Homo sapiens: one gene and its partners. Changing the gene in region 2 together with the main gene of any one other region gives a genetic interaction. Each region holds a gene or a part of one and is shown on either strand. Other genes may lie near its edges.

What was found. A genetic interaction does not mean that the proteins touch.
Region 1: changes in CENATAC (region 2) and PDCD7 together harm fitness more than expected from each alone (negative genetic interaction), as found in Homo sapiens cells (one large-scale study listed by BioGRID).
Region 3: changes in CENATAC (region 2) and METTL17 together harm fitness more than expected from each alone (negative genetic interaction), as found in Homo sapiens cells (one large-scale study listed by BioGRID).

Annotation. Positions count from the first base shown.
Region 1 is NC_000015.10:65,120,344-65,123,808, reverse strand, and holds part of PDCD7 (programmed cell death protein 7), read left to right. Parts: intron 1-3,465. UniProt on the Homo sapiens protein: Promotes apoptosis when overexpressed.
Region 2 is NC_000011.10:119,000,786-119,005,060, forward strand, and holds part of CENATAC (centrosomal AT-AC splicing factor), read left to right. Parts: intron 1-827; exon of another isoform or gene 828-1,040; intron 1,041-2,167; exon of another isoform or gene 2,168-2,808; intron 2,809-4,275. UniProt on the Homo sapiens protein: Component of the minor spliceosome that promotes splicing of a specific, rare minor intron subtype. Negative regulator of centrosome duplication.
Region 3 is NC_000014.9:20,992,980-20,995,257, forward strand, and holds part of METTL17 (ribosome assembly protein METTL17, mitochondrial isoform 2 precursor), read left to right. Parts: intron 1-138; coding exon 139-212; intron 213-989; coding exon 990-1,084; intron 1,085-1,563; coding exon 1,564-1,634; intron 1,635-1,814; coding exon 1,815-1,922; intron 1,923-2,185; coding exon 2,186-2,254; intron 2,255-2,278. UniProt on the Homo sapiens protein: Mitochondrial ribosome (mitoribosome) assembly factor. Binds at the interface of the head and body domains of the mitochondrial small ribosomal subunit (mt-SSU), occluding the mRNA channel and preventing compaction of the head domain towards the body.

The sequences.
Region 1 (3,465 bases), on a different chromosome or scaffold from region 2:
CAACTTAGTAGAAGATAAATTTGAGTTGTAGTGTTTCTGTAGTTGAGAATGAGTGAATGGAAACCTGTAGAAGCAAAGCAGTTAGGAGAAAATCATCTAGAGAAATGTTAGCCTTGAGAGTGAGTTCCACAACCACTTAGCTGTAGTGGTTGAAGGAGGAAAGAATCCTACCTCCAAATTACAACTTTACAAGAAACAGAACTACTAACCTTGAGAAACCATTATTTATGCCATTTATCAGCCCAAACTGAAAATTTAGTGCTCAAAGCTGGCACTATTGTATAACACAAGTTGCAGCATAAATTGTTAAAACCCTGTTGAAGGGCCGGGCATGGTGGCTCATGCCTGTAATCCCAGCACTTTGGGAGGCCGAGGTGGGAGGATCATGAGGTCAGGAGATCAAGATTATCCTGGCCAACATGGTGAAACACTGTCTCTACTAAAAATACAGAAATTAGCTGGGAATGGTGGCACATGCCTGTAATCCCAGCTACTCGGGAGGCTGAGGCAGGAGAATCGCTTGAACCCAGGAATCAGAGGTTACAGTGAGGTGAGATCGCGCCACTGTACTCCAGCCTGGTGACAGAGCGAGACTCCGTCTCAAAACAAAACAAACAAAAAAACCTTGTTGAAAATCATTCATTCATTGAAGAAGTATCTATTAATTACCTTCTCTGTGTCAAGTGTTTGGTAACTGAGCAAATATATAGCTTTTTTAGGAAGCAGTTTAGAACACAGTTTGTTAGTCTTGAAAGTATTCACAAACATTTCCATTTTTGAGAATTTTTCTTTCTTTTTTTTTTTTTGAGACAGAGTTTCACTCTTGTTGCCCAGGCTGGAGTGCCGTGGTGCGATCTCGGCTCACTGTAAGCCCCGCTTTCTGGTTTCAAGCGATTCTCCTGCCTCAGCCTCCTGAGTAGCTGGGATTACAGGCACCTGCCACCACGCCCGGCTAATTTTTGTATTTTTAGTAGAGACAGGGTTTCACCATGTTGGCCAGGCTGGTCTCAAACTCCTGACCTCGTGATCCACCCGTCTCAGCCTCCCAAAGTGTTGGAATTACAGGAGCCACCCTGCCCGGCCAAGAATTTTTCTGATAGAAATCCCTAGGAAGGAAAAAAGTAACATGCCCAAGAATATTCATTGTATCACAATATAATAACAGGACATTTGGAATAGCTTAGGTGTCCAGGAGTAGGGAACTTGATAAGTATATTCTAGTGTATTGATTTGATGAAATAGGATACAGCCATTAAATAATTATGAAGATTGGAGAAGAACGTACAGAATCAACAGGGAGAAGTGGAAATTACATACATGTAACGTTGAACTATATGAAGTTGCTAATACATGGACAAAAAGACCTGAAGAGAATGTGAGAAAGTATAAAATGGTTGATTATGGTAATGGGATTAGGATTTTTTTTTTCTTTCTTGTATCTGGTATTCTTTTTTTTTAAATTTATTTTTTTGGAGATAAGAGTCTTGCTCTGTCACCCAAGCCAGAGTGCAGTGGCATGATCTTGGCTCACTGCAGCCTCCACCTCCTGGGTTCAAGCGATTCTCCTGGCTTAGCCTCCTGAGTAGTTGGAACTACAGGCGCACGCCACCATGCTCGGCTAATTTTTTGTATTTTTAGTGGATATGGGGTTTCACCATGTTGGCCAGGCTGGTCTTGAACTCCTGAGCTCAGGCAACCTGCCTGCCTCAGTCTCCCAAAGTGCTAGGTTTACAGGTGTGAGCCACCACGCTTGGCCCTGTATCTGGTATTGCTAAAATGCTTGGGTAACATATTTTCCTTTAAAATCTTCAAGGACTGACAGGATAGATCACATCCACATCACTCTACATTGATTCACCTGGAAGCTTTTGTATTACAGGGCCATTATGGTAGTGAGTGCACAATTGCAGTCCACTCAAATATTCATTAAGTTAAAATCTTTTTTTCTTATGAAACTTTATGAAACATTTCACACATGCACAAAAATAGAATACATAAACACTCATCATCAACTATGATACCATTGTCACACCAAAAAAATTAGCAGTAATTCTTTGATATCACCTAATAACCTGACTATTTTCTCCACTGTGGCTTTAGATATGTTGGCTATACTGTTAGCTGACCTCATAGTTAAATCAGGATAATAACCATCCCAGTTTTACTGGGACTTGGGGCTTTCAGTGCTACATGCAGGCAAACCAAAACAGTTGGTCAGCCTACTGTCAGCAGCAGACTGCAAGGTCAGTGTGGTTGTTTTAAGTGTATCTTCCTCACCATCCAAGTGTGCACTCCCAAAATTCACACTCAGTCAGAGGAAGAATTGTTTATTAATTAGATCTGGGAGTTGATGCTAAGGGAATTTCACAAACAATGAAGTTAAGACAAGTTCCTCCCTTTAGTGAGCTCACTGTTTCAAGTGGAGGATCAAGACCATTAGAAATAAACAAAGTCGAAGCCAGGTATGGTGGTTCACGCCTGTAATCCCAGCACTTTGGGAGGCCAAGGTGGGTGGATCACCTGAGGTCAGGAGTTCGAGACCAGCCTGACCAACATGGAGAAACATCTACTAAAAATACAAAAATTAGCCGGGTGTGTTGGTGCATGCCTGTAATCCCAGCTACTCAGGAGGCTGAGTCAGGAGAATCGCTTGAACCCGGGATGCGTGGAGTTTGCAGTGAGCTGAGATCGCACCATTGCCCTCCAGCCTGGGCAACAAGAATGAAACTCCATCTCAAAAAAAAAAAAAAAAAAAGAAAGAAAGTCAGAGGTTAAGTGGTGTGGATGATCCAGAGGGAGGAGTTGAGAAAGTCAGGGTAGGGTCAGAGTAATTGAATACTCAGAAACATCAAATTGAGCCTTAAAAGATTGGGTAAAATTTCTAAATTTTAACCGATACATACTATAGCTAGGACTTTTAAACTTCCTCATTATAACACAAATTTTGGGATAAGAAAACGTGTGTAAAAGGCCATTTGGGCTGGATGCAGTGGCTCACTTTGGGAAGCCAAGCTGGTAGGATTGCTTGAGGCCAGGAGTTAGAGATTAGCCTGGGCAACATAGCAAGACCTCATACAAAAAAGTTTTGGTCTTTTTTTTTGGAGACGGAGTCTCACTCTGTTGCCCAGGCTGGAGTGCAGTGGTGTGATCTCCGCTCACTGCAAGCTCCACCTCCCAGGTTCACGCCATTCTCCTGTCTCAGCCTCCCGAGTAGCTGGGACTACAGGTACCTGCCACCATGCCTGGCTAATTTTTTGTATTTTTAGTAGAGACGGGGTTTCACCGTGTTAGCCAGGATGTTCTCAATCTCCTGACCTCGTGAGACCTCATACAAAAAATTTACAAATTAGTAGGTAGGGCCAGGCACAGTGGCTCATGCCTGTAATCCCAGCACTTAGGGAGGCCAAGGCAGGGGGATTGCTTGACCAGGAGTTTAAGACCAGCTTGAGAAACACAGGGATACCC
Region 2 (4,275 bases):
ATTGAGATGGGGTTTTGCTATGTTGCCCAGGCTGGTCTCGAACTTCTGGGCTCAAGCAATCCGCCTGCCTCAGCCTTCCAAAGTGAGCCACCATGCTTACCCCTCACCCTTTTTTTTCCACATAGATTTTGTCAATGTGCATGGATTCATTTATCTTGAAATGCTGGGCAACTGCAGCTGTAGATCCTAATCTACAGTACATATCAAACAATTCAGCTTTTTCTTGTAATGTCATGACTTTTCTCTGCTTCTTTGGAGTGCTTCAGGCATCACTAGTGGCACCTCCTATAGGTCCCACGTTACTATTTGAGGTTAATGGTATGACATTACTGAAAAATATGCAGGAACCATGAGTGATCACTTTTACTGTAATATGCAATTTACTGGTGAGACAACTGCTTACAAGATGATCAGCATTACTGTGTTTTAAGCAGATACAACACTTGAGTTCACTGCAATAGGTGGCTACAAAATTGTGACAGTTGTAGTTTGGATTATAATTTTATACAGTTATGTAATATTGCATCTTTACATTTATTTTCATTTCTCTTGACCGCGAATGTCACCATGTACAGTCTGTGTTTCTGTGTGTAAGTTTTGATAAATTTTAACTTTTTTTTTTTGGAGAGGGAGTTTTGCTTTGTCACCCAGGGTGGAGTACAGTGGTGCGATCTCGGCTCACTGCAACCTCTGCCTCCCGGGTTCAAGCGATTCTCCCGTTTCAGCCTGGATTTGTGTATTTTATGGTAGTAAATCATAAAAGACTAGTATCTACATATATTTTATGCATTCATGACATACCTTTTTAATTTTTTCCATATTTCTAGGCTATGTGGTTCATCTGCAAGTTTTTTCAAATTGTTGCAAATCTCCAAAAAAATTTTCAAGTGAACTCGTGCAGTTCAAACTTGTGCTGTGCAAGAGTCAACTGTATTTGCTTATTTTCTCAAAAAGGAATGCCTAAAGGATAATCAAGAAACTAATGAAACTGCCAGATGTGGTGGTGCACACCTGTAGTCCTAGCTACTCAGGAGGCTGAGGTAAGAGGATAGCTTGAGCCCAGGAGTTTGAGGCCATCCTGGGCAGTGTATCAAGACCCCATCTCTAAAAAGAAATACGAATTTTTTTTTAGAGAAGTTAATGAAATTGATCACATGGCCATGCTCAGTGGCTGACACCTGTAATCCCAGCACTTTGGGAGGCCGAGGTGGGAGGATCATTTGAGGTCAGGAGTTCGAGACCAGCTTGGTCAACATGGTGAAACCCCATCCCTACTAAAAATACAAAAAATAGCTGGGCGTGTTGGTTTGTGCCTGTAATCCCAGCTACTCGGGAGGGTGAGGCAGGAAAATCGCTTGAGCCCAGGAGGCAGAGATTGTACTGAGCCAAGATCATGCCATTGCACTGCAGCCTGGGCAACAAGAGCAAAACTCTGTCTCAAAAAAAAAAAAAAAAAAAAAAAAGAAACTGATCACATATCAGTTAGTGTAACCAGTTGGTGTGACCCAGTTTGTGGGTCAGTAAAAATGTTTAGAGTTGATAGGAATAGAAAAAAGATTTTTTTTTTTTTTTTTGGACAGTCTCACTCTGTTGCCCAGGCTGGAGTGCAGTGGCACAATCTCAGCTCACTGCAACCTCCACCTCCCAGGTTCAAGCAGTTCTCCCATCTCAGCTTCCAGAGTAGGTGGAATTACAGGCTTGTGCCACTACGCCTGACTAATTTTTGTATTTTAGTAAAGATGGGGTTTCACCATGTTGGCCAGGCTGGTCTTGAACTCCTGACCTCAAGTGATCCACCTGACTCGGCTTCCCAAAGTGCTAGGATTACAGGCATGAGCCACCACACCCGGCCTAGAAACAAGATTTCTATGTATACTTTTAAAAATAAGCTGTTGGTTTTTTTTTTTTTTTCTGATGGTACATTTGGGAATTATACTGTAACAGGCATAAGAAGTAAGATTTCTCCCATGCGAAATTTTGTATTCAGAATCCAATAGAAATATTTCAGGTTTTTTTTCAAGATGGAGTCTCGCTCTGTTGTCCAGGCTGGAGGGCAGCTGCGTGATCTCGGCTCACTGCAACCTCCGCCTCACAGGTTCAAGCAATTCTCCTGCCTCAGCCTCCTGAGTAGCTGGTATTACAGGCATGCGCCACCATGCCTTGATAATTTTTTTTTTAATGGTGAAAAGATATACATATATTTAGAATTAGCCAACTGGACTCAGTTGAGATGATCCCTATTTTGTTGGCAACATCCAAAGCATTGTAATCAGGAGCCAGTCGAACATGTTCCTTCTCTCCATCAGGCCGAATCAGGGTGTTGACCTTGGCCACATCAGTGTCATAGAGCTTCTCTGGTGCTGTGGCTTAACATTCACAGTGAACACAAGTGCGTGTGTCTTCTGTCTTCTTCATGGAGACTCAGTGGTCAGAGGAAACTTGATGATGCATAGTGGTCAAGCTTGTTTCTCCTGGGGGTGCTCTTAAGATATTTGCACTGCCTCCGGAGTCGCAATGTCTTGGGCCGCCAGAAGGCTAGTGATACGCGGATCTTCTTTTTTTTGTGGCTGTGGACACCTTTCAACACTGCCTTCTTGGCCTTCAGAGCCTTGCTTTGGCTTTAGGAGGGGCAGGAGCTTCCTTCTTAGCTTTTGGTGCCATCTTGTGAAAAGGGGCTGATTTTTGTATTTTTCGTAGAGATAGGGTGTCACCATGTTGGCCAAACTGGTCTCGAACTCCTGACCTCAAATGATCTACCCACCTTGGCTTCCCAAAGTGCTGGGATTACAGGCGTGAGCCACTGCACCCGGCCAATAATTAGAAATATTTCTCTCTCTTTTTTTTTTTTTTTTTTGGGAGACAGAGTCTTGTTCTGTTGCCCAGGCTGGAGTGGCATGATCTTGGCTCACTGCAACCTCCACCTCCTGAGTTCAAGCGATTCTCCTGCCTCAGCCTTCCGAGTAGCTGGAACTACAGGTGCATGCCACCACACCTGGCTAATTTTTGTAATTGTAGTAGAGATGGGGTTTTACCATATTGGTCAGGCTGGTCTCGAACTCCCGACCTCAGGTGATCCGCCTGCCTTGGCCTCCCAAAGTGCTGGGATTATAGGCGTGAGCCACCGAGCCCGGCCCAAATTAGAAATATTTCTAATCAGATATTTCCATGGTTATAGATATTTGGTTGCTTGGTTCATATGCATAGAAACAGTTGTCATAACTGTAAAAAGCAGTACTTAGCAAGTATTTCTAAGTGATTGGAATAGCTTTCCTTTAATGTTACAATACTGCCTATTGATTTGGAAATTAGATCACGCTCTATGATGTTTCGATTTTACTCAAAGGCATCATGAGTACTCTGCTCATTCTTTCATTCTTTATAGTTTTCTAGTTGAGTTAGGAACTATTTTATCAGAAATCATTTTAGCATTATAATAAGGGTAGATGACATACCATAATGATTTTCAGATTTTTTTTTTTTGAGACAGAGTCTTGCTCTGTTGCCCAGGCTGGAGTGCAGTGGCACGATCTCAGCTTACTGCAACCTCCGCCTCCTGGGTTCAAGTGATTCTTCTGCCTCAGCCTCCCGAGTAGCTGGGACTATAGGCATGCGCCACCATGCCCAGCTAATTTTTGTATTTTTAGTAGAGATGGGGTTTCACCATATTGGCCATGCTGGTCTCGAACTCCTGACCTCATGATCCACCCACCTTGTCCTCCCAAAGTGCTGCAATTACAGGTGTGAGCCACTGGTCCCAGCCTGATTTTCAGATTTTTAATAAAAAGGGTATCTGGATTAGCTGGGCATATAGTCCTACCTACTCTGGAGGCTAGCCTATAGTCCTACTTACTCTGGAGGCTAAGGCAGGGGGATCACCTGAGCCTGAGGGATCACTTGAGCCCAGGAGGTTGAACCTGCAGTGAGCTGTGATCCCACCACTACACTCCAGCTGGGCAGCATAGCAAGAATGTCTCTTTAAAAAAAAAAAGGCAATTCAGTTGCAGTGGCTCATGACTGTAATTCCAGCACTTTTGGAGGCTGAGACAGAGGATCATTTGAGCCCAGGAGTTTAAGACCAGCCTGAACAACATAGTGAAACCCCATCTCTAAAAAAAAAAAATTATATTAGCCAAGCATGGTGACATTTGCCTGTAGTGCTAGCTACTGGGGAGGCTGAGGCAGGAGGATTGCTTAAGCTCACAAGGTTGAGGCAGGAGTGAGCTGTGATCACACCACTGCACTCTAGCCTGGGCAACAGAGCAAAATACCCTGTCT
Region 3 (2,278 bases), on a different chromosome or scaffold from region 2:
ATCCCATAAGGTATTTGTATTGAATCTCAAAAGGCATTCACATCTCACATCCTCTGTGATAGCCTCCTAATTCACATTTATCAAGGTCCTAAATAAGTATCTAATTACCCTACTGTGGGATGTTGTATATTTCTTCAGATCCGGGCTCGAAATCCAGCATTTCAGCCACAAACTTTGATGGACTTTGGCTCAGGTACTGGTTCTGTCACCTGGTGAGTAACTTTCTTCAGCCCTATCTTGGTCAATTTTAGCTCTAGAAAGCCATACTTACACCACTCCAAAATTAACAGACTGGAAAACCAGAGGGAGAATAGGCAAGTTGGGAATCTATAATGTTTCTTCCATCAGATTAGGCAAGGCAGAAGAAGGTATATGGATTGGGGCCAGAACTTAAAAGAAATGTCAAGTAAAAAAAGGCGCATGTGTAGAAAAATTAAAAAGAAAAGGAATTATCAATCAAAGTTGTTTTTGCCTACAAATAGTATTTTGAGTCTACCTTTTTTTTTTCTTTTTTGAAACGGTGTCTCACTCTGTCGCCCAGGCTGGAGTGCAGTGGCACAATCTCGGCTCACTGCAGCCTCCACTCCTGGGTTCAAGTGATTCTCCTGCCTCACCCTCCCGAGTAGCTGGGACTACAGGTGCACGCCACCACACCCAGCTAATTTTTGTATTTTTAGTAGAGACGGGGTTTCACCATATTGGCCAGGCTGGTCTCTAACTCCTGACCTTGTGATCCGCCCACCTTGGCCTCCCAAAGTGCTGGGATTACAAGCATGAGCCACTGTGCCCAGCTGAGTCTACCTTTTTTTTTTTAGGAGTTGTAAATAAAACAAGAAAATAACACTATTAGTTATTTTATTACTAACTATACAACTACTTTAACATAACACTCTCTTTTCCCAGGGGTGGGGTTGGGTGTAAATGGGCCTCTTGTAGAGATGACTCTTGGTCATGGGAATTGGTGATTTATAATAATTTTGCCATCTTAGGGCTGCTCACAGTATTTGGGGCCAGAGCCTACGTGAATATATGTGTGTGGACAGATCAGCTGCCATGTTGGTTTTGGCAGAAAAACTACTGAAAGGTGAGTGCAAGAGCACTTCCAAAGTTGAGGGAGTTAAGAAAGCAAAGGGGTACTAGTAAAAGTGTTTTACTGGGAAGTAGAGAAGAGGGTAAAAATTAAGATGAATCTGGTTTACTTTTAAAGTTATAGTCAAGCAAAGGGTGGTATTAGAGGTTTCTGCTGGACTGAGGATGGGTTGGGTAAGAATCAAAGGACAGGAGGCCTAATATTCTCCCTGCCCTTTTTTTTTTTTTTTTAATTAGAGGTAGGGTCTCCATATGTTACCCAGGCTGGTCTCAAACTCCTGGCCTCAAGCCATCCTCCCACTTCAGCCTCTAGGGTAGCTGGGATTACAGGCACGCACCGCCATACCTGGCTCATCCCTGCCCTTTTTGATATACACTTTACCTATTCTTGGGGCCATGTTTCTTATCTGGATATCTCTTCAGTTTATACCTAACTTCCTACACACTCACAGTTGCCTCTTCTTTTCTCCACAGGTGGTTCAGAATCTGGGGAGCCTTATATTCCAGGTGTCTTTTTCAGACAGTTTCTACCTGTATCACCCAAGGCAAGTGGCAGTGTTTAGAATATTCTAAATGTGGAATGTGGCAGATGGAAAACTATGGCTTGAGCTTTGCAGCCCAGCACTGAGTGTTAGAAGATAAAAGAAATTTAGCGGCTAGGACTTTGTTGTATTCTTGGGATGTAGAGATGTTGAGTCTGTCATGTTCCTTGTCTTGGTCCTCAGGTGCAGTTTGATGTAGTAGTGTCAGCTTTTTCCTTAAGTGAACTGCCCAGCAAGGCTGACCGCACTGAGGTAGTTCAAACCTTATGGCGTAAGACAGGTCATTTCCTGGTGAGTTAAAATTCCTTGTTCTCCTTAAGTCTTGAAGCAGCTTCATGGATTTCATGCCTTTGCTCCTCTCATTGTCTTTATTCTTCACCATTTTTCTCCTTCATGGGTTTCTTTATCCCTCTTTGAGGGTCTCCATCCTGATTATGTAATGCCTATTTCTTTTTAGGACTCCTTCTCCCTCTATGATTGCTCTTACACAGCTACTGACATTTATACTTTCGTGTAATTCAAGTCTTCTGCATATTTTCCCCTTTTGTGAACAGGTACTGGTGGAGAATGGAACAAAAGCTGGGCACAGCCTTCTCATGGATGCCAGGGATCTGGTCCTTAAGGTAAGGCTTCTTCTTCCCTCACTC